3 linked regions of the Homo sapiens genome follow. The protein of the gene in region 3 interacts with the protein of the main gene of each other region in a pairwise test. Each region holds a gene or a part of one and is shown on either strand. Other genes may lie near its edges.

The links. Proteins that work in one complex are often made in the same cells at the same time.
Region 1: the proteins of TRAPPC6B (region 3) and TRAPPC8 interact in a two-hybrid assay, tested with the Homo sapiens proteins (one study listed by BioGRID).
Region 2: the proteins of TRAPPC6B (region 3) and TRAPPC10 interact in a two-hybrid assay, tested with the Homo sapiens proteins (one study listed by BioGRID).

Annotation. Positions count from the first base shown.
Region 1 is NC_000018.10:31,904,755-31,912,922, reverse strand, and holds part of TRAPPC8 (trafficking protein particle complex subunit 8), read left to right. Parts: intron 1-3,162; coding exon 3,163-3,256; intron 3,257-3,278; exon of another isoform or gene 3,279-3,339; coding exon of another isoform or gene 3,340-3,379; intron 3,380-3,909; coding exon of another isoform or gene 3,910-3,912; coding exon 3,913-4,169; intron 4,170-4,504; coding exon 4,505-4,620; intron 4,621-5,312; coding exon 5,313-5,463; intron 5,464-8,168. UniProt on the Homo sapiens protein: Plays a role in endoplasmic reticulum to Golgi apparatus trafficking at a very early stage. Maintains together with TBC1D14 the cycling pool of ATG9 required for initiation of autophagy. Involved in collagen secretion.
Region 2 is NC_000021.9:44,014,515-44,022,682, forward strand, and holds part of TRAPPC10 (trafficking protein particle complex subunit 10), read left to right. Parts: intron 1-8,168. UniProt on the Homo sapiens protein: Specific subunit of the TRAPP (transport protein particle) II complex, a highly conserved vesicle tethering complex that functions in late Golgi trafficking as a membrane tether.
Region 3 is NC_000014.9:39,152,486-39,160,653, forward strand, and holds part of TRAPPC6B (trafficking protein particle complex subunit 6B), read right to left. Parts: intron 7,066-8,168; coding exon 6,998-7,065; intron 5,918-6,997; coding exon 5,800-5,917; intron 5,432-5,799; exon of another isoform or gene 4,637-5,431; intron 1,810-4,636; coding exon 1,726-1,809; intron 1-1,725. UniProt on the Homo sapiens protein: Component of a transport protein particle (TRAPP) complex that may function in specific stages of inter-organelle traffic.

The DNA.
Region 1 (8,168 bases), on a different chromosome or scaffold from region 3:
CTCCTGACCTCAAGTGATCTGCCCACCTTAACTTCCCAAAGTGTTAGGGTTACAGGTGTGAGCCACCGCGCCTGGACTGATCTCTTTCTTAAAAGATTAAAAGTGAATTACACGTTAAGAATTGAGTTAGATAGGCTAGACGTGCAGAATGGAATTTCTGACTTGTCTGTTTAATTCATTATGAATGCCTACAGTCAATTCTTTATTATCTACATGCTCTGGGGTTGCTCCCTACATTTTTCTTTTTCTTTTCTTTTTTTTTGAAACAGAGTGTTGCTCTGTCGCCAAGGCTGGAGTGCAGTGGCACAATCTCAGCTCACTGCAGCCTCCACCTCCTGGGTTCAAGCAATTCTCCTGTCTCAGCCTCCTGAGTAACTGGGATTACAGGCGTCCACCACCTACCACCATGCCCGGCTAATTTTTTTTTTGGAGACAAAGAGTCTCGCTCTGTTGCCCAGGCTGGGGTGCAATGGCGCGATCTTGGCTCACTGCAACCCTCCACTTCCCATGTTCAAGCAGTTCTCCTCTCTCAGCCTCCCAAGTAGGTGGGACTACAGGCGCACACCACCACGCCCAGCTAATTTTTGTATTTTTAGCAGAGAGAGGGTTTCACCATATTGGTCAGGCTGGTCTCGAACTCTTGACCTCAGGTGATCTGTCCGCCTCAGACTCCAAAAGTGCTAGGATTATAGGCATGAGCCATCATGCCCAGCCTCTTTCGTACCTTTTTAACATGCTTTTATAGCCACCTTCAGGAACTCATACTTTTTAGGTGGGTGGGCATTTCCCTCCAACTTTCCGTTGATTTCCCTTCTTTATGTACTCTCAGGAGTTACTGTTTTTTAATTACTCCTTTCTTAACCTCGAGTTCTAGAATAAGATTGATTGTCCTATTGGCTTAAGTTGATGGGCGTTTGATGTTTTGTCAGACTTCTAAGGTACAATAGTATGCCGCTTGGTAGTAGTCAAATGCCAAGTTCCTATGCTTAGTTCAGATAATCGAGAGTCACTGTTTTTTGTTTAGAAGAAAATTTTTTTTTTTTTTTTTTTTGAGACAGGATCTCGCTCTGTCGCCCAGGCCTTGGTCTCCCAAAGTGCTGGGATTACAGGTGTGAGCCATCATGCCGGCCTAGAAGAAATTCTTTTTTTTTTTTTTTTTTTTTTTTGAGACGGAGTCTTACTCTATCGCCCAGGCCGGAGTGCAGTGGCATGATCTCGGCTCACTGCATGATCTCGGCTCACTGCAACAGCTGCCTCCTGGATTCAAATTATTCTCATGCCTCAGCTTCCCGAGTAGCTGGGATTACAGGCGCCCGCCACCACGCCTGGCTAATTTTTGTATTTTTAGTAGAGATGGGGTTTCACCATGTTGTCCAGACTGGTCTCGAACTCCTGACCTCAAGTTATCCCCCTGCCTCAGCCTCCCAAAGTGCTGAGCCACCACACCCGGCCAGAAATTTTTTTTTTTTTTTGAGACGGAGTCTCACTCTGTTGCCCAGGCTGGAGTGAAGTGGCGAGATCTCGGCTCACTGCAACCTCCACCTCCTGGGTTCAAGCGATTCATTTTTAGTCGAGACAGGGTTTCACCCTGTTGGCTAGGCTGGTCTTGAACTCCTGACCTCAAGTGATCCACACGCCTCAGCCTCCCAGAGTGTTGATATTACAGGCGTAAGCCACAGCGCCTGGCCTAGAAATTCTTAAGTAAATGGAAAATATATTTATATTGTTCAATTAAACTATATTATGCACTCTGTGTGTGACATTTAAAAAATCAATTACAAAGCTTATGTAATTTTTGATCTTCTGATATAAGTATTGTTTAATCTGTTTATTTGCTTTATTTTTCTGTCTCATAAATGGAATCTTTAAATCTAAATGTAGTGCTATCATGGTATTTTACTGACTTTAGTATTGAGGTGATTACTGACGTTCTTTAAGATAATGCTGGGGAAAAGCAAAGAAGTACCAGTTGGATGTGAAGGAACTTTATTTTTAAAAATGGTCTTTTAGGGGCCATTCTAAGAATAAGAACAGTACTGAAAAAAATACACTTTAGAGTTCAGTCACCTAAGGTTGTGAAGGGGAACATGAAGAAGATTGTGCAGTATGAGAACTTTTAGCAGAAAGCAGAAATATCAGAAATCTATGCCTTAGCATCCTAGAAGCTCAAAGTTGGAGAATAGTTTAGAGGTTTTACATCCAATGCTTGATCTAATGCTTTAATTTCTTTAAACTTACGAATGACTGCGTCTGTTGACAGTACTCACTGTATTCTTATTAAGTGACCTATTGCATGTCTGATCACCCAAAAATTCTCTCATTTTGCTTAAGGATCAATAAAAAATTCTTGACCTTTGCTTGTACGCTTGATCCTTTGGGAGTGACTATGTTAGTTTTCCATTAAGACAACTTTCAAAATATAGAAGGATAATTCTCATGTCCTCTTTTATATTTTTCCAGTCTAAATATGCCTAGTTTCTGCAACTCTTTCTCAAGGAGTGGCTTCAGACTTTCTTGTCCTGGTCACTTTCTTCTTGAGTTCTAGTTTATGTAAATTCCCTCAAAGTGTGACACTCAGAATAATACATCATATTTACTGGTCTTGTAGAGTAGTCTGGGTATTTTTAGTTTAAGTGTTTTTTTGTTAACTGAGAAACCAGTTCCTTTGCACAAATAAACGTTGCGTTAGATATTTTTCTAAAACACTTCAGTATATTCAGAATTCACTCCAACCTGCTTACACTGTGACCCAAAGAATTTCATATCTGTGCCTCTCTTCTTTCCCCGTCTGACTCTAGTAGTCCATCTCTCTTGCCATTATTCCTTACTTAAGAGGCATAAGCATATGTATGTGCTTATATGAACACTCGTGTATATACATATCATATATAAGTAGATATCCTGAGAGATAATTTGAATTAAGAAGAATTAGGATAGTAGCTTGAGTGTGAAAGGGGATTTAAGAATATAGTAGGTGTGAGTTGGAGTGATAGAATAAGATCCATGGAAGAAGTTATGAATTTGGAGGACGAGAAAATGCTCACTGTAGCAAATAAATGAGGCCAACAGTTAGCAGAGTAACCATAGTTGTTGATGGATTTGATAGTATATTAAGTATGATTAAGTATAACTGCTAATGCTTTTTAAATTTTATTTTGATAGGAATCATATGAAGATGGCCCTTGTACTATAACTTCAAATAAGAATTCTGATAATAACTTGCTTTCATTGGATGGATTAGATAACGAAGTCAAAGGTCTTGATATATTTTCTCTAAGTTTCTCTTTTGATTGAAAATATGCACTGTTGTCAGATCATGCTAACCTTTATAGATAAAAGATGGGGGAAATTTTTCATAATACAGAAAGATATTGGGCAGGTTAGTTTTTCTTCTGAAGATTTTACTGAGCTACTTGAGTTTGTTTTTGACACTTAAAAATTTGTTTTATATGAGTAGTGTATAGATTTCTTTTAAAATATTTTGTAGAAAGCAAGGGAAGATGTGATGCACAGCATTAATTATTTAAAAATTTACATGATTTTGAGAGCTTTATTTCTGACTTTATGATTTTTGTAATGATAACAAATTTTTTTTGTTATATTTTTTCTTACGGCTTAGTTGTACTATTTAAAAGTCATTCTTTATATTATTTAAAATAAAGTATTTTTCTCCATTTCCTGGTTTATACCGATTTTCAAATTACTAATACAGGTACCAAAACAAATATTAACTCAAGCTCATTAATTTTGGGGCTGGGGGATGTTACTGCTGTTTTATCTTAGACATTTACCTATACTGAAAGATAAAGGATTTTAACATTCTGCTTTTTTTTTTTCTTTAGCAGTATGGTAGTATTAGCACTGTTTTCTGTTGCATTCTGAGAGTAAAAGAAATAATCTCTTTTTCAGTAGATGGCTTACCAAATAACTTTAGAGCTCACCCACTTCAGTTGGAGCAATCCAGTGACCCTTCTAACAGTATTGATGGCCCAGATCATCTAAGATCTGCTTCATCGTTACATGAAACAAAGAAAGGAAATACTGGAATAATTCATGGTGCATGTTTAACACTTACTGATCATGATAGAATTCGACAGTTTATACAAGAGTTCACATTTCGGGGCCTTTTGCCACATATAGAGAAAACAATTAGGCAATTAAACGATCAGGTAAGGTTTGATTTTTTGGATTAGTATTTTAAAAATTTAAGTAAATAGTAAATTTAAGAATTATTAAACGTATTTGAAGTTTTGTTTTATTTTCGTTTTAAGATAGGCCAATATTAAGACTTCCCAAAATTACTATCAATGATGAAATTCTGTTCAACTCTAGAAGAGGCTTATTCATTTTCAATAGGATTTTGCCAGCATATTGGACAGTTTTCTTTAAATCAGTTTTATTAAAATGAACATTTGCTATTAAAGCTTTTTAGTTAAAATTTTTTTATGTAAAGGAAAAATACTAAATTCTTTGTTTGTCAACATATTTAATCTCTTTTTTAAAGCTAATATCAAGAAAAGGTTTGAGTCGATCTCTATTTTCTGCAACTAAAAAATGGTTTAGTGGCAGTAAAGTTCCAGAAAAGAGCATTAATGACCTGAAAAATACATCTGGCTTGCTGTGAGTAAAGTGTTATCATTTTTGTTTTTCCTCTGTTTAACTCTCTGACTAGTGTTTGATTGTATATCCTGCAGAAGATAACTATCTCTTTAATTTCTTAGTTTCTTATTGGTGAAAATTCAGGTGGATAAGAAGAGTGACTCAAGTAAATCATATTAATTTTTTAAAAACTAAGTAATTGGACATCTAAAAACAAATGGGAAAGTCACTTTTGGTCTGTTTCCTTATTTGTAAAACAATGAAGTTAGACTAGGTATTCATTAGTAACCATTCTATATCTAAAATGTAATGGCCTGATGATTCTAAGACAAGGGACACATTTAATAAATTTTGCTTTACACAAAAAACCATTTTAAGGAAAAAATATAATTAATCCATTTTGGATTTTAATCTTTCTCCTGGTTGTATATAAATGTGAGTCACTTGGAATTAACCATTTACTTCATTATTTGACCATGGAGAAAATGTTTGCCTGCCATTCAGACATTCTCAGGGCTATAAATAATAAAACAAGGAACTTTCTGTTTCCAGGTATTTTTGAGAACTGACACTCTTGTTGGAGGTAGAATTTCTTTGAAACAGCATTAGTTTTCTTCATATTCTAGAAGAACATGGCAGCTTGTTAATGTATTTTATAATTTTAATGGTTTGGGGGGTAATAAATTATAAATTATTTTCTTTTGTATTTACAGGTATCCGCCGGAAGCACCAGAACTTCAAATCAGGAAAATGGCTGACTTATGTTTTTTGGTGCAGCATTATGATTTGGCTTACAGTTGCTATCATACTGCAAAGAAAGATTTTCTTAATGATCAAGCAATGCTTTATGCAGCTGGTGCCTTGGTTGGTATTCTATGGTATTATAATTCCTTAATTCTGCTACCATAAATTATTTAGAAATTTCTCTTGGTGGCAAACAGAATCCTTAGGGATAAAGTTGTACTCAAAGAGCATATAGTACTTTACAGATTGTTAATTCCTTAATGCTGAGTTGATGGATTTCCCTCAGACTAGTTGATTAGCTGGGTATGGTGGCACATGCCTGTAGTTCCAGCTGCTTGGGAGGCTGAGGCAGTAGAATTGCTTGAGCCCAAGCGTTTGAGACCAGCCTGAGCAACATAGTAAGATTGCATCTTTAAAAATAAATTGAAAAAACTTATTTCTTAAAAACAAAACCCAAAAAACTAGGTAATTAAAAAATGGTCATGTATTAGGGTTTCTTTCTTTATTAGTACTTTCCAACTTTTGCATCAGCTTTCAGAATTGTATTTCATTTTCTAATATATTTAAAATACAAAAATTTTTTTAGAAGTTTTTTTAAACCTTGACAAACATTTTTAAGTTGCTTGATGTATGACTTCATACATCAAGAACATGTACTTTGGTGTGAGACACTCTCTCATCTTAGGCAAGTTATTGAATATCTCTAAGCTACAGTTTTCTGACCTGTAAAATATGCGAATCCTAATGGTATAGGATCAGATAAAGTATAAAGCATGCACTTAGCATAATGCCTTATATATAATAAGCTGTCAGTAATATCAGTTGTGTTAGTTTTGTAATTGATTACAAAGCCAGGTATTTCCAAAGAATTTGCTATACTTGTTGCCTAAAACCTTTTAATGTTTTTGAAAAGTTACCACAGATATATGTGTAATCTGCTTTATGTGTTCAGAAAAGAGTAAAATTAGCACTGTTACTTTTTATTTAATCTTTTAAAAGACATGTAAGCTTATAAACAAAAGTGAAGAAAAAAGTTTATAAGAATAATTCATAGGTAATTGTGTAGATACTTTTTTTTAGCTAGAAAATATTCACAGGCTGACAGATACTTGTTTAATAACTGGCATTTGTTTTGCATTTATTTTAATACTGTGCATATATAAAATATGTAACTTAAAAATGGAAGCCAGAATAGCAAAATTATATTACTATTGCTTTCTGGTTCTCTAATTTTTTAATGAAAAAAGTCAGCCCACTTTTTTTTTTTTTTTTTTTCCTGGAGACAGAGTTTCAGCTCACGGCAACCTCCACCTCCCGGGTTCAAGATTCTTGTGCTTAAGTTTCCTGAATAGCTGGGATTACAGGCATGCCCGACCATACCCATCTAATTTTTTTTTTTTTTTTCGTATTTTTAGTATAGACAGGGTTTCGCTGTGTTGCCCAGGCTGGTCTCGAATTCCTGACCTCAGGCAATGTACTGTGCCCGGCCAACCAAGTTTTTAAAAACCTTTCATAGAAATGGAAAATATGCTATGTTCATGAGAAGTGTTTGAAAATATAAGTGAATTTTCCTTGGCTAAATATTCTCTGATTGCTCATTATAGTCATCCAATTTAAGCTAATATGAAATCACAAATACTTCATGTTATTATTAATACCTTATAACCTAGGTATGCATTTGTAATGAGAAATTTTTATTTAATGTACCTGCAAGTAGAATGTTTGATAAAAACTACATTTAAGCCATTCAACTGGAAGTATTAGTAGCTATTTGAGAGAAAATAATATAGCACTGGAAAATAAAGGCATATTTATTCTTAGATGATATATGTGCACCTGAAAATCACTTAGCCTTTAAAAGCTACCCTAAAAATAATGGGCTTCTGAGAAAAGTTAGACTGGGTTAGTCTTCTTGAAACCTATTCATCTTTGTAACCAGAGCACAAACAAAAACATTAAATGGTACCTTGGAAGATTACCTAAATAATCTAGATAGGCAGCTTAGCATGGCTGAGGATACCTCAGGGAATATAAAAAATAATTTTTTTATAGAGATGGGGATGAGCAAGAAGAGTTCCCAACCGATGGAGCTGCCATGAAGCTGATCATAGAAGAAAGTACAGCCTGCCCTGAGCCCAGAGCTGTGCAAGGCTGGTGGTGTACTTCTCTGGAGACACAGTCCATATGCACCAAAGTGTAGGCATTCAGTTTTTAGCAGCTGAAAGAGCGCCTTTCTGTGCAGCAGCTGAGCTCAGGGCTTTTTCCTTTCCTACTGAAGGATATAAGTTTATAATACTGCTATTTTTGATTCCCTTGCCTAAGAAAAATTATGTATGAATAAAAATTTAATTTGAACTGATATCACTTCCCTTACCATTCACATGTTAACTAATTGATAAGATAAAAATGTGTTGTAGTAGAATAGACTAGATCGTATGCCTTTTTAGATGAAAATTATAGAAGATATTTAGTCATAGTAACTACAAAGGCAAAATAAATATCACAGCAAAACCAGTAATAGGAATGCTTGCAGACTTTTTTTTTTTTTTTGAGATGGAATCTCACTCTGTTGCCCAGGCTGGAGTGCAGTGGCTTGATCTCAGCTCACTGCATCCTCCACCTCCTGGGTTCAAGTGATCCTCCTGCCTCAGCCTCCCAAGTAGCTGGGATTACAAGCATGTGCCACCACTGCCAGCTGATTTTTGAATTTTTAGTAGAAATGGGGTTTCACCAAGTTGGCCAGGCTGATCTCGAGCTCCTGACCTCAAGGGATCTGCCTGCCTCAGCCTCCCAAAGTGCTAGAATTACAGGCGTGATCCACTGGG
Region 2 (8,168 bases), on a different chromosome or scaffold from region 3:
CCTTCCTCGGCCTCCCGAGTAGCTGGGATTACAGGCGCATGCTGCCATGCCCGGCTAATTTTTTGTTTGTTTGTTTTTGTTTTTTTTTTTTTTCAGTAGAGACAGAGTTTCACCATGTTGGTGAGGCTGGTCTCGAACTCCTGACCTTGGGTTGTCCACCTGCGCAGCCTCCCGAAGTGCTGGGATTACAGGCTTGAGCCCCCACCCTTGGCCTCAAGCAACATAGTGAATGTTAATCTCTGCATGGATGGTACACTGTCCTAGAAGGTGCAAACTTTCATTCATTGGAGTCTCAGAAGAGAAGGGGGCTTCAGTAGACTGTCAAAGTTAACTTGAAAAATGATCACTTTAAAAGTGAAGGTAAAAAGCTGACTTCATACTTCCCACTTGAAATTATGTTGTGGTATATCTGGGACTGAAGCTTTAGGAAGCACTTGGCCTGGTTTCACTTTATGCCTTCATCTTGCTCCTCTCTTTCAGCTATACATGTTTTGAAAGGAGAAGGTGGTATGAACAATTGCTTTAAAAAAATCCACCCAGAGGCTAATTAACCCTTAACTTTTTAATATTATGTACATAGTTCTCTTAGTAGGCAACATTTTTGTTTTCAAAAATCTTTTAAATTCTTACTTGAAATGGTATTACCTCAGATCTGTTCATTTTAAAATGAAAGTAGAGTTTATGCATGTTGTGAATTTTTTTTCCATAGAATGTATAATATTTTACTTCAGTGAAAATGCATTCTGCTTAGACCTTTCTGGGAAGAATATAGAATGTAACTGGTTCAGGTGAATTTAAAAACTGTGTATATGTAGGGATAGAAGAATGAAAAGTTCCCAAAGATTAAGGGTAATTAGAATAGATTATTACTTTAAAACCTAGCTGATTATTTCACTTCATTTTATTATTATTATTTTTTTAGAGATGGGGTCTCGCTCTGTCACCTAGGCTAGAGTGCAGTGGCATGGTCATAGCCGACTGCAGCCTTGCTGGGCTCAAGTGACCCCTCCCTTAGCCTGCCAAGTAGCCAGCACTACAGGTATGACCCACCTCACCTGGCCTGAATTATTTTAATAATATTTTGAAGCTCTCCAAATTTTTTTTTTTTTTTTCTGTCTGAGACAGAGTCTTGTTCTCTTGCCCAGGCTGGAGTGCAGTGGCGCGATCTCGGCTCACTGCAACTTCTGCCTCCCGGGTTCAGTCGATTCTCCTGCCTCAGCCTCCCAAGTAGCTGGGATTACAGGCGTACACCACCATGCCCACCTAATTTTTGTATTTTAATAGAGACACAGTTTCACCTTGTTGGCCAGGCAGGTCTAGAACTCCTGACCTCAGGTGACCTGCCCGCCTCGGCCTCCCAAAGTGCTGGGATTACAGGCGTGAGCCCCCGCACCTGGCCCTAAATGTTTTAATAGACTTTAGCCCATAATTAAACCTCCTGCCTAACGGGCTCCTGTGAAGAGGGACTAGCACAGTAGGGGCCTTCTTAAACTCAGAACTAGTTACAGCTTGTAAATACTGAAGAGTGTATGTGAAATGTGCAGGGATGGGAGCTGAACAGTTAGTGGAACTAATGCTTTGACGGGGTTGGGTGATGAATGACCGAATCATAGCAATAGGAAAACTTGTAGTATATTTTATTAATCATGAAAAATGCCTGGCGTAACTGAAACAAATCCAGCAGATCCATTTGGTCTAAATTTAAATTTTAGCGTAGATTTGTTTTTCAGCCACAGGGTCAGTTTTCTGTTTTGAAATAGACTTGGGTTTCTGTTCCAAGGGTGTATTAGGAAAGACACGTTCCTTTTCCAGCCATCTCATTCAGTTAGTGACAAAGTTAATGTAATTCCAGTGATTTGTGGCTTTTCTTTGTTGACTGTCCTCATACCTACAATAGCACATACCTGTTATTAGCTTGGAATTGAATTTCTCTGAACAATAATAGTACCCTCCCTCTAGGTGATCTGTTCTCATTAGTCACATCTGTTGCCTGTTTCATTTTTCTGAGTTTCTGTATTTGGGGTTCCAGGTCTGATATTAGAAACTTTTAAAGGGGAAAACAGGCAACAGAAATGAGCAGATATGTAGAGCTTCGTGTCTGGTTGGACTTTGGGATTTTCCCCTGTAGGTTAAAATTTTTTTAATTTTAATTTTTATTTTTTGAGACGGAGTCTTGCTTTGTTGCCCAGGCTGGAGTGCAGTGGTGTGATCTTGGCTAACTGCAAGCTCCGCCTCCCGGGTTCACGCCATTCTCCTGCCTCAGCCTTCCGAGTAGCTGGGACTACAGGCGCCCGCCACCACGCCTGGCTAATTTTTTGTATTTTTAGTAGAGACGGGGTTTCACCGTGTCAGCCAGGATGGTCTTGATCTGACCTTGTGATCTGCCCGCCTCAGCCTCCCAAAGTGCTGGGATTATAGGCATGAGCCACCGCGCCCAGCCAGGTTAAAGTTTTTAAATTTGCACATTGAAATTTTCTACTAAACCTGAAAATGTGGTGCTTGCGATTTAACCATCACTAGTTTTACTACCAGAAAAGTCACTTGAAATGTCTGTTTAAATGGGTGAATATGTTATAAATGCAGATTTTGTTTCATATTGAATTCTCAAGGCAATGTTGAACCAAAGATTGAAAAGTAGGAGAAACATTCTTCTTAGGAAATCGCAGTTGTTGCAGAGAGTATGTATTTGGAGGCGGGGACTAAAGGCACCAACAAATGTGCTTAACTTACTATGTCATTTCTACCCGAGCATGGTTACAAACCATTCCATCTTGTACGCATGACCTCGGTTCTTACATAATTTCACAGACCCTTAGCTGTGAAACGGGTACAGTACCAACCCCATCGGGTTGAGAAGGGTGTGTAAAGCACTCAGGAGAGTGTCAGGATTATAGTCAGTGTGCAAAAAAAGTTACTAAGGAGAGGTTCCTCAATTTTCTCTGTTCACAATGCTTTTAGTGTCTCGGTAATTTTTTTCATGGCATCTCTAGGCTAAAAGGAATACTTAAAAATTCCATTTATTAAGTAGTTAGATTCCAGTAATTTATTAAATATTATGTCCTAACAAGAGCTGTTTGAAAAAAAATATATATAAGTTGGAAGAAAAAAATATTTTCATCATTCTTCCTAATTGCAGCAGTGTGCTACGTGGGGGGCAGGCCCTGCGGGAGCTCTGTGGCACCTCTCACCTGAAGGTCGGATTGGACGCTGCTTCTCCCTTTGGTTTTTTTTTTTTCTTCTTCTTTTTGGTGGTACTTGCTTTTTATCAGAGCAGCCACCCTGTTTTGCGACGATAATGATGTCATCGAAAGAAGTGGAGCCCTGATCTGATGTTGACACTGTGAATACCTTGTGTGGGGTTCCTACACCACAAGCATTGCTGTTTCCCTCATAAATTTAAAATATCTCTTGGTGCCTCTCTGCGTAGTGTGTGGGAAGCCTAGGTACACAGTTTGGGAACCCGTGCTGTTAGTGTTATTAGCCCAACTCCAGGGTGGATTTGAACTGATACTTTAGAATTGAAAAGCTTCCTTTCTTTTCAGCTCACACACCTACTTTACTACAAGATGTGTTTCTGAAGAGTTTCTAGTAAGTTCTTTATGCAAATGAAATGGAAAGGTCTGATTTTCTTTTTTTTTTTCTTTTTTTCTTAAGTGCTGATGAATCTCTGAAATAATCAAGTATGATACAGCTTGGGCAACATAGGGAATTCCTATCTCTACAAAAATGAAAATAAAAAAGTTAGCCAGGTGTGGTGGTGTGCGCTTGTACTCCCAGCTACTTGGGAGGCCGAGGCGGGAGGATCACTTGGACCTGGGACGTCAAGGCTGCAGTGATCTGTGATTGTACCTCACACTGCAACCTGGGTGACAGAGCAAGACCTGGTCTCAGAAAAAAAAATAAAGGCTGGGCGCAGTGACTCATGGCCATAATCCCAGCACTTTGGGAGGCCAAGGTGGGTGGATCATGAGGTCAAGAGATTGAGACCACCCTGGCCAACATGGTGAAACCCCGTCTCTACTAAAAATACAAAAATTAGCTGGGCGTGGTGGCTCGCGTCTGTAGTCCCAGCTACTCGGGAGGTTGAGGCAGGAGAATTGCTTGAATCTGGGAGGCGGAGGTTGCAGTGAGCCGAGATCATGCCACTGCACTCCAGCCTGGCGTGAGACTCCGTCTCAAAAAAAAAAAAAAAAAAGTATGTCGGGCATAACACATGAACCAGTCTTTCCTTAGAGAGTTTTTGCTGTGTGCTTCCACCAGAGGCCTGCCAACTGACAGTGTGATTGTGTGGCTCACTCTGGCTGAGTTGGTTATCTTTTAATGGAAATACAAATAACTGACTTAAGGATTTTTTTGTCGTAGGAAAGTTTGTTGCCAGTTGACAGAGTGTCTTCCCTGGAGTCGCATGCCTTAGTGTGTAAGTGTGTGGTCTCCAAAGGTATTGCACACTGATCTCCAAGTACTGACCCTCCCACCCCCGTGCTCCACTCTAGACCTGGTGGCTTTAGATCTGGAGTTAGAGACCAGCAACGGCAGAAGATTACAGGGTCTTTTTTTTTTAAGACATGGTCTCACTGTGTCGCCCAGACTGGAGTGCAGTGGCATGATCTCGGCTCACTGCAGCCTTGACCTCCTGGGGTCAGGTGATTCTCCCACCTCAATCTCCCGAGTAGCTGCTTGTGTGCCACCATGCCCAGTTAATTTTTTGTATTTTCAGTAGAGATGGGGTTTCGCCATGTTGCCCAGGCACGTTTTGAACTCCTGGATTCAAGCAATCCGCCCTCTTTGGCCTCCCAAAGTGCTGGGATTACAGGCATAAGCCACTGTGCCCAGACAGCTGCAGGGTCTTAAACAGTCAAAACATTCCCACCTCAGTGCCTGCCTCTGTGGTGGGTTGCCTCAGAGCTTCCTGTGGCTTCCTGTCCTGTGTCTCACCTTCTTTCTTCCTCAAATCTTTCCTCTATCTGCTCTTAATGTCAAATATAGTCACAGTATTTTGGCCTTAGAGAATATTTGTTTTTAAATTAAAAATTGATAACCTTGGAGTCATTTATGACTTCTTTTTTCTCTCACAACTGACATTATCTTTGAAATATATCTAGAATCCAGCTATATATAGGGCCTGCCTGGATAATCTGGGATAATCACATCTTGAGCTCCTGAACTTAATTAAGTCTACAAAGACCCCTTTCCCAAATAAGGTGACATTCACAGGTTTTGAGGGTTAGGATGTTGTGGGGCACCATGCCACCTGCCGCACCACTGTCTGTGTTAGCTACCAAGCGCGCAGTGGCCGGCATTCATCAAGCGTCTTTGGTTTTAGACAGCTGCGTCTGTCTTTGGAGGTTTGTCCTTCGTGTACTCCTGACCGAGGGAATGTTATCTTGACATTTGGGCTTCTGGGTTCTAGATGTGGTTACAAGGTGGGGTGATCCCTTCTTAGGAAAAGTCCAGCCTCTTCTGTGCTCTCTCCCTTATGTGGCTTTTTGGACATTTGTTACATGGTGTTTAATTTCTGAATATTATTTTAGGCCCCTGTTTGCAATTTTTTTTTTTTAACAGTGACCAGGGACCATTCCATTGTATGTTTGGACATTTTTCTTTTCTTTTCTTTTTTTTTTTTTGAGACAGAGTCTCGCTCTATTGCCCAGGCTGGAGTGCAGTGGCGTGATCTCGGCTTACTGCAAGCTCCGACTCCGCCTCCTGGGTTCACGCTATTCTCCTGCCTCAGCCTCCCGAGTAGCTGGGACTACAGGCGCCCACCACCACACCTGGCTAATTTTTTTGTATTTTTAGTAAGGATGGAGTTCACCGTGTTAGCCAGGATGGTCTCGATCTCCTGACCTTGTGATCTGCCCGCCTCGGCCTCTCAAAGTGCTGGATTACAGGCATGAGCCACCGCGCCTGGCCCATTTTTCTTATTTTTAACTGAGATCTGTTAGCAGTTTGAAGCGATTGTATACATTTCAGAGTTAGCTGGGCATGGTGGTGCGTGCTTCTAGTCCTAGCTACTTGGGAGACAGGCCAGAGGATCGCTTGAGCCCAGGAATTTGAGGCTGCGGTGAGCCATGTTTGTGCCACTTCACTCCAGTCTGGGCGACAGAGTGAGACCCTGTCTCAAAAAACAAAAAACAAAAAAAAACAATTTCAGGGTTGAAATTTTTAGCAGAGCCTTGGAACTGACAACCACCTGTTTGGATAGTAACTTTAACTCAATCTGTAGCTTGCCATTTGTGGGCACTGTCAGTTCACCTAGACCAGTCAGCAAGCTCTAAACATCCAGGTTAATGAGAAGGGCCGTCAGAAGTCATTTTGAAGTTGAGGAGCTGAGGGCTGGTTTTGCTGTGACTGGCCATGATCAGTGTAACTGTTTAGTAGCACAGCTCGGACCAATATTAGCATGTCTGATGACTCCTGCTTTACCAAGTACTTAGGGAAGGCAGACACCATCTGTTCACATGGAAGCAGGGAGTTTGTCCCTAAAATTATGCTTCTGAGAAAGCCTTTGCCATATAATTAAATAAAAATGTCACTTTAGCATTCTAAGAATTGAGTAAGTAAGCTATACACTAGAAATTTTTAGTATAGTCTTATTCCAAAATTAAATTCCTATTCTGAGAACTTGATACCCAGCACTGTCTTTGCTTCTCCTGTAGTCTGTTCTGTCCTTTGGGGATCCTGGGTTGTCTAGTGTGGAGTATGGAGGAGTTGGGCTGTTTTCATCAGTGAGCAAACATTTACGGAGGACCTATTACATGCCAGTTACTGCTGAAGGGGCTTGGGTTATGTCAGAGAGCAAAGATCCCAACCCTTTGAGAGTTTACATTCTGTCAAGAAGAGATAGACAATAGACAAATAATGTTAGGTGACAAGTGCTATGGAAAAAAGAAAAAGAGAAGGATAAGGGAAATGGAAGAACTGTAACATTTCACATATTTTATTATAAAAGTGCAATATGTATCAAAGTAGACAGAATATTATAAAGAGACCCTACAAACCTTTCACCCAACTACAGCAATTAGGTGAACTGCCCAATCTTGCTTCTCTATACCCCTCATTCTCCCCAGTCTTATATTATTTTGAAGCAAATCTCAGACATATAATTTATCCACGAATGGATGTTATGGACTGAACATTTGTGTCCCTCCCTACACACCGAAGCCCTGACTCCCAGTGTGCTAAGAATAGGAGATGGGCCTTTGAGAAGTACCAGGGCTAGATGAGGTCAGGAGGGTGGGCCCTTTATTATTGGATTAGATGAGGAAGAGTGAGAGGACACCTCCCCCTTGAAACGAGGAAAGGCCACCTGAGGATAACAGCAAGGAAGTGGCTGTCTGCAGTCTGTAACACAGGCCTCACCAGAAACCTAATCTACTGACACCTTGATCTCGGGCTTCTTGACCTACAGAGCTATGAGAAAATACATTGCGATTTTTTTTTTCTTTCTTAGGGTCTTTTCAGAGAGAAAACAAAAAACTGTTTTCTAAGCCACCCAGTCTATGGCATTTTTTTTTCTTTTTAAAAATTTCTTTCTTTTTTTTTTTCTTTCATGGTATTTTTTAATTACACCTAAAACGTTTCTTTCTTTCTTTTGTTTTTGTTTTTGTTTTTGAGATGGAGTTTCGCTCTTGTTGCCCAAGCTGGAGTGCAGTGGCACAATCTCAGCTCACTGCAACCTCCGCCTCTCGGGTTCAAGCAACTCTTCTGCCTCAGCTTCCCAAGTAGCTGGGATTACAGGCACATGGCACCATGCCTGGCTAAATTTTTTTTTTTTTTTTTTTTTTTTGAGATGGAATTTCACTCTTGTTGCCCATGCTGGAGTGCAGTGGTGCGATCTTGGCTCACTGCAACCTCCGCCTCCCAGGTTCAAGCGATTCTCCTGCCTCAGCCTCCCGAGTAGCTGGGATTACAGGCGTGTGCCACCATGCCCAGCTAATTTTTTTTTTTTTTTTTTTTTTTTTACAAAGACGGGGTTTGTTAGTAGAGATGGGGTTTCTCCATGTTGGTCAGGCTTATCTCGAACTCCCGACCTCAGGTGATCCGCCCACCTTTGCCTCCCAAAGTGCTGGGATTACATGTGTGAGCCACCATGCCTGGGCCTAAAACGTTTCTTAATACCAAATATTCAGTGTTTAAGTTTCCAGTGTGTCTTAAATGTCCATTTTTAA
Region 3 (8,168 bases):
ATTCAGGGAATTTTTGATTACCCACATCTATACTGCATGATGTTCAACATACTACATTATCTACGAATAATATAAAATATTATCTTATAAATAATATACATAAATGGGCACTAATAAGTAACTAGATCTGAGTCATGAAATTTTAAGCTGGAAGAGGCCTTAGAGATTGTTCATCCCAAGAGTTCTTAATCGGGGAATTTGTGACCCCTATGAAAATAAAAACCATGTATATGTGCGTATTTATGGGGAAAGGTGTTCCAGTTCTCAAAGATGTCCATAACTCAAAATAGTTAGAAATCACTGAATTGGTCCAACTTACTCTTTTCACAGCTGAAGAAACCAAGATCCCAAAAAGTTAAGTGAGAACCAGAAATATTAAACTAAGAAGTTAGTAAAAAAGAGAAAATATGCCAGGCATGGCCTATAATCCCAGCACTTTGGGAGGCTGTAATCCCAGCATTTTGGGTGGCTTTTGTAATCACGTCTGTAATCCCAGCACTTTGGGAGGCTGTAATCCCAGCATTTTGGGTGGCTTTTGTAATCACGTCTGTAATCCGAGCACTTTGGGAGGCTGAGGTGGGTGGATCACGAGGTCAGGAGTTTGAGACTAGCCTCGCCAACATGGTGAAACCCTGTCTCTACTAAAGATACAAAAAATTAGCCAGGCATGGTGGCGCACACCTGTAATCCCAGCTACTCAGGAGGCTGAGGCAGGAGAATCACTTGAACCCAGGAGGCAGAGGTTGCAGTGAGTCTCACACTCTGTCCGAAAAAAAAAAAAAAGAGAGAAAATATACACATTAACCATAAAAATGTAATTAGAGCCTGGATACCCCAAAAATATAGAAAATAGGCAATCAGGCCGGATGCAGTGGCTCACACCTGTAATCCCAACACACTGGGAGGCCGAGGTGAGGTGATCACTTGAGCCCAGGAGTTCAAGACGAGCCTGGGCAACATCGTGGGATCCCATCTCTAAAAAATTTTTTTAAAAATTAGCCAGGCATGGTGGCCCACACCTGCAGTCCTACCTCCTTGGGTGACTGAAGTGGGAGGATCACTTGAGCCCGGGGGGGTCAAGGTCAAGATAGGCCATGATTGTACCACTACACTCCAGCCTAGATGACAGAGCAAGACCTTGTCTTAAAAAAAAAAAAAAAGTGATCTACCATACATCTACATTTCACTGTCATTTAGTTATAGTGTTTCTTTTTTTTCTTTTTTTTTTTTTTTGAGATGGAGTTTTGCTCTTATACCCCAGGCTGGAGTGCAATGATAGCACGATCTCAGCTCACTGCAACTTCTGCCTCCCGGGTTCAAGTGATTCTCCTGCCTCAGCCTCCCGAATAGCTGGGATTGCAGGCGCTCGCCAGAACGTCCAGCTATTTTTCATATTTTTAGTAGAGAAAGGGTTTCCCCATGCTGGCCAAGCTGGTCTTGAACTCTTGACCTCAGGTAATCCACCTGCCTTGGCCTCCCAAAGTGCTGGGATTACAGGCGTGAGCCATAGCGCCCGGCCAGTGTTTCTTTAATTGGTCACTCTATGACTATTTAGCTACAGTTTAGTGTTATTGTAACATGTCTCTCATTTCATAGAAAACTCTTTAAACAAAAAAGAACACCTTAAAACATATTTTTAATTCAATAGTTTGTTATGATTAGCACTGTACTTTTCCCTGTAGTCCTACTATTAACAAAAACCCCAACTTCTATTCCATTAAATACCTTAGATGCATGTTCTAAATACTGTTTTCCTGCAGACATCTGAGTAAGCAGGCGAAATTTGTTGTCCTGAAGTACATAGATGCCCTGTTCCAAAAATAGAAAAAAAATCCAAAGTCAATGTACCTAGCAGTCCTTAAAATTATTTTATTCTTATGAAACAATTTAAGTGTTTTTTAAAGTTATTAAAAGTCTCCTTCCCATTGGCCAAGTTTTCTTTTTCTGTTCTTTGAGACGGGGTCTCCTCTGTCGCCCAGGGTAGAATGCAGTGGCACAATTACGCCTCACTGCAGCCTCCAACTCCCAGACTCAATCAATCCTCCCACCGCAGGCTCCCAAGTAGCTGGGACTACAGGCGTGCATCACCATGCCCTGCTAATTTTTATATTTCTTGTACAGATGGGGTTTCGCCATGTTGCCCAGGCTGGTCTCAAACTCCTGGGCTCAAGCAATCTGCCCACCTTGACCTCCCGAAGTGCTGGGATTACAGGCATAAGCCCACGTGCCCAGCCTGGTCAAATTTTGTTTAAATGAAGGAGTTTTGCAATGTTCAAGCTGAAGAGTTGCGAGTTCAGTATTTTCACAACACTAATGTATACCGAACGGTTTTATACACTGAAGATAAAAACACTGTCTGAGACATAGTCCCTATCCTTAAAAACTCATAGTCTAGTACGATGGAATCATTAATACATGTCCACATGAAATAAGCTGTTTGTTTGTATAGTTATTTATTTAGACATGAGCTCTCACTCTGTTGTCTAGGCTGGAGTGTGGTGGTGCAATCACAGCTCACTGCACCCTCAAACACCTGGGTGTTTAGCAATTCTCTTGCCTCAGCCTTCCGAGTAGCTGGGACCACAGACACATGCCACCACACCCGGCTAGTTTTATTAATTTTTTGTAGAAAGGGGGTCTCCCTATGTTGCCTAGGCTGGTCTGGAACTCCAGGGCTCAAGTAATCCTCCTGCCTCAGCCTCCCAAAGTGCTGAAATTACATGTATGATCACCACACCCGACCTAATTTTTATTTTTATTTATTTATTTTTTTGAGACAGAGTTTCACTCTTGTTGCCCAGGCTGGAGTGCAATGGCTCGATCTCAGCTCACCACAACCTCCGCCTCCTGGGTTCAAGTGATTCTCCTGCCTCAGCCTCCCAAGTAGCTGGGATTACAGGCATGCGCCACTACGCCCAGCTAATTTTGTATTTTTAGTAGAGACGGGGTTTCTCCATGTTGGCAGGGCTGGTCTTGAACTCCCAACCTCAGGTGATCCACCCGCCTTGGCCTCCTGAAGTGCTGGGATTATAGGCGTGAGCCACCGCACCCGGATTTATTTGTTTATTTGAGACAGAGTCTTGCTCTGTCGCCCAGGCTGGAGTGCAGTGGTGTGATCTAGGCTCACTGCAACCTCTGCCTCCCGGGTTCAAGCAATTCTCCTTCCTCAGCCTCCTGAGTGGCTGGGACTATAAGCGTGCGCCAATATGCCTGGCTAATTTTTGTATTTTTAGTAGAGACAGGGTTTCACCACGTTGGCCAGGCTGGTCTCGAACTCCTGACCTCAGGTGATCTGCCCACCTCGGCCTCCCAAAGTGCTGGGATTACAGGGGTGAGCCACCGCGCCCAGCTTTATTTTTTTAAGAGACAGAATTTTGCTGTTATCCAGGCAAAAGTGTAGTATTTCACTGTATCCTTGAACTCCTCCCATGTAGCTGAAACCTCAGGCACATACCAATATGCCTGGTGAAATTTTTTTCAAGTTTTTTGTAGAAATAGGTTCTAAGTATGTTGCTCAGGCTGGTCTCCAACTCCTGAGCTCAAGCAATCCTTCTGCCTCAGCCTCCCAAAATGCTGCAATTCTAAGCATGAGCCACCATGTCCAGCCAGCTGATATATATTAGTAAATCATGTCTAGAGAGTAAAAAAATCATAGTCATTTCTTCCTATTAGCATTTCCAGTAATTCCAAGCTAAAGTTGGTACAAAATGAATTCCAGGCCAGGCACAGTGGCTCACACCTGTAATCCCAGAACTCTGGGAGGCCAAGGCGGGAGGATCCATTGAGCCCAAGAGTTTGAGACCAGTCTGGAAAACATAGTGAGACACTGTCTCTAATTAAAAATAAATAAATAAATGAATTATCCTATTGAGAGTACCAGATACATTTAATTTTTTACTTAATCAAAATTCCAAATCTACTCTAAGTATTTCCTTGAAGTTCATAAAATAAAATCTAATGAAGCTGGGAGTGGTGGTGCATGCCTATAATCCCAGCTATGCAAGAGGCTGAGGCCAAAGAATTACTTGAGTCCAGGAGCTCAAGACTAGTCTGGGCAACAAAGCGAGACTCTGTCTCCCTTTTAAAATTTTAATAAATACATAGTTTTCTATGTAATCTATTAATTTTGTAGTAAGAAAATCTTTTAAGAGTAGAAAATATGACAGCAGTAATAATCCAGGAGTTATTTAAGAGTAAAATGCTCTATAAATTAGACTTTAGAAATGACTATAAAGAATCTCTTCCTGCCACCCAAGATGCCAAAAGGAAAGGCCAAGAGGAAGGAGGTGGCTCTGGCCCTTGGTGTCATGAAGAAACAGGAGGCCAAGAAAGTGGTGAATCCTGGTTGGGCGTGGTGGCTCACGTCTGTACTCCCAGCACATTGGGAGGCCGAGACAAGCGGATCACTTGAGGTCAGGAGTTCGAGACCAGCCTGGCCAGCATGGTGAAACCCCACCTCTACTAAAAATACAAAAATTAGCCGGAGTGGTGGCACATGCCTGTAGTCCCAGCTACCTGGGAGCCTGAGGCAGAATGGCTTGAACCCAGGAGGCGGAGGTTGTGGTGAGCCGAGATCGCACCATTGCACTCTAGCCTGGGCAACACAGCAAGACTCCATCTCAAAAAAAAAAAAAAAAAAAAGAAAGAAAGAAAGTGGTGAATCCCCTGTTTGAGAAAAGGCCTAAGAATTCTGGCATTGGACAGGACATCCACCCAATATGGACCTCACTCACTTTGTGAAATGGCCCCGCTATATCAGGTTGCAGTGGCACAAAGCCATCCTCTGTAAGCAGCTGAAAGTGCCTCCTACAATTAACCAGTTCACCCAGGCCCTGCACCGCCAAATAGCTACTTAGCTGCTTAAGCTGGCCCACAAGTACAGACCAAAGACAAAGCAAGAAAATAAGCAGAGGCTATTGGCCCGGGCTGAAAAGAAAGCTGCAGGCAAAGGGGATGTCCCCACTAAGAGACCACTTGTCCTCCGAGCAGGAGTTAACACCATCTCCACCTTGGAGGAGAACAAGAAGGCTCAGCTGGTGGTGACTGCACACTATGTGGATCCCATCGAGGTGGCTGTCTTCCTGCCTGCCTTGTGTCATAAAATGGGGGTCCCTTACCGCATTATCAAGGGGAAGGCAAGACTGGGATGTCTAATCCACAAGAAGACCCGCACCACTGTCGCCTTTACACAGATTAACTCAGAGGACAATGGAGCTTAGGTTCAGCTGGTGGAAGCTATCAGAACCAATTACGACAGACAAAACGAAATCCACTGTCACTGGGGAGGCAATGTCCTGGGTCTCAAGTCTGTGGCTTGAATTGTCAAGCAGGAAAAGGCAAAGGCTAAAGAACTTGACACCAAACTGGGTTAAACATACACTGTTGAGTTTTCTGTATATAAAAATAATTAAAATAATCCAAATTCTTCTTCTTCAAAAAAAAGAAATGACTCTAAAGACATAAAGGTGATATATTTGTGGTTCTGCATATTATTACCACTAATTAACAGTAACTAAGGAACCAAATAGTAAAAGCTATTCTCATCCTGACTTATGCTACTTTAAAAAACTTAACATAGCATATAATTGGGTGAAAGGAACAGCTATCATTACTGATAACTGTCCCTTTGTCTTTACTCAGTTCACACTATTAGAAGAAAAAAACTAATAACTCATTAATAACATAAACATATTCCAAAGTTAACCAGAAATTATTTTAGGTTTTAAATAAGTCACTAAAATACGATATTTATATCAAGTTAAAGGACTTTAAAATATAGGCCTTAATTAATTTAATTACCTGATGATTTGTCCTTAGATTGTCGATTTGTTTCTTGAATACCGTAGTCCAAAAATCTTTACAAATGAACTTCATGATATCTAACTCATCCTTGAACCTTGCAGTATCTTTTGTAAACCTAAAAAGATCAACTAGAAGTAATACAGTATTTCTCCTCCAAAAAAAGCAAGAGGGACTAATTATTAACTAATTTCCAAATGCCAGAACAGCACTGAACATTTATTGGGTTTTTTAATTTTAATTTTTTTTTTGAGACAGATTCTGGCTCTGTCGCCCAGGTTAGAGTGCAATAGCATAATCTCGGCTCATTGCAACGTCTACCTCCCTCCCAGGCTCAAGCTATCCTCCCACCTCAGCCTCCCTAGCAGCTGAGACCACAGGCACATGTCACCATGCTCAGCTAATCTGTATATCTTTGTAGAGACAGGGTTCCACTTTGTTACCCTGGCTGGTCTCAAACTCCTGAGCTCAAGAGATTCTCCCACCTTGGCCTCACAAAGTGCTGGGATTACAGGCATGAGCCACCACACCTGGCTGAACATTTATTAACACTAATAAAGTCATAAGCACCAGGTAACATGATCCTATCTCAATGGATTCACATTATGTTATATAAATTATGAGGCCTCAAATTAGTCTAACATTATAGCCAAAATTTCAGGTGCAATGCATTCTAGCACATCAAAAAACCACAAAAGAACAAAGAGCTGAGCATTATCATGACATTGTTATATAAAATATACTCCGAGTTTAACTATTCAGGTAGTGAGAAAGAAATACTAAAAAGAACTGATTTATAAGTTCAAAGATAATTACACGCATAAACATAGACTATAGTTATTTCAAACCTATGTACTTAAAAATTCTATGCAGGTTAAAGAACCTAGCAGATCTTAAGTTGAAAATGCAGTAAGATTTTAGATAGTTGCTTCAATAGCTTCAGGAATAAAGTCTAAAATAGCTTCAGGAAGAAAGTCTAAAATATATAAAATATATATTTTCTTTAAACATTAAAATAAAATTTGAATAAATGAGTTAAATGGCATTGGATCTAAAAAGAAATTTTAATTTTTGAAGTAAAGAGAATAACATTCAGGAATTAAAATTAAAATATCCCAAGTTTTATGCAATCTTTTGAAATAGATCACCTTTGTTTATAACCTACCTGCAAGAAAATTTTCAAATCCAACCTGCTCACCTTTCTATCAATCCTTGTCCCACTCGAAACCCCATGTTTTCCAGCTTAGTAATACATCGTCCGTTTTCCTATTTTAAAAAACAATAGTTTTAAATACTTTTAGAATGCTAGGATGTTAGTATTCAGAAATTGTTTTACAAGATTGGTTAAAAATATTAATGTAAACATTTATACTTTTTTCCCTGAAACAGTTTAAGAAAAAGTGAATTATAAGGTTGATTTTATTTATTTTACTTTACTTTTACTTACTTTACTTTTTACTTTTTTTTTGATAAACAAGTTAATTCATAATTTAGTCAACATATACATGATTAACCTAAAAACTTCAATAGAAGGATACATTTTTTTAATTTATTTTGAGATGGAGTCTCGCTCTGTCATCCAGGCTGCAGTACAGTGGGGCCATCTCGGCTCACTGCAACCTCCATCTACAGGGTTCAAGTGATTCTCCTGCCTCAGGTTCCTAAGTAGCTGGAATTATAAGCACCCACCACCATGCCTGGTTAATTTTTGTATTTTTAGTAGAGAAAATACAAAAATACAAAATGTTGGCCATGCTGGTCTCAAACTCCTGACCTCAAGCAATCCACCTGCCTTGGCCTCCCAAAGTGCAGGGATTACAGGCGTGAGCCACCGCGCCCAGACAGAAAGATACATTTTAAAACCACTTGGAAGGCCATCTCTATAGAAGTGATTTTCCCAGGATAGTAACCAGATGTAACCTAACCCAACACCATCTTAACTGTCAGAGGTTCAATGGGTTAAAGCTTTGTGCTCCTCCCTGACACCAAGTCTTTTAATAGAAACAAACCCCTCAAGACACGGTGGCTCATGCCTGTAATCCCAGCACTTTAGGAGGCCAAAGCAGGAGGATCACTTGAGCTCAATGGCTCAAGACCAGCCTGGGCAACATAGCAAGACCACATCTGTACTAAAAGTAAAAATAAAATAGCTGGGCATGGTAGCATGTGCCATTTTGGAGGCTGATGCAGGTGGATTGCTTGAGTCCAGGAAGTTGAGGCTGCACTGAGCCATGATCATGTCATTGCACTCCAGCCTGGGCAACAGGTTGAGCAAGGGACCCCATGAAAGAAAGAAAAGAGAAGAGAAGAGAAAGAAAAGAAAAGAAGAGGGGAGGGGAGGGGAGGGAAGGGAAGGGAAGGGAGAAAGA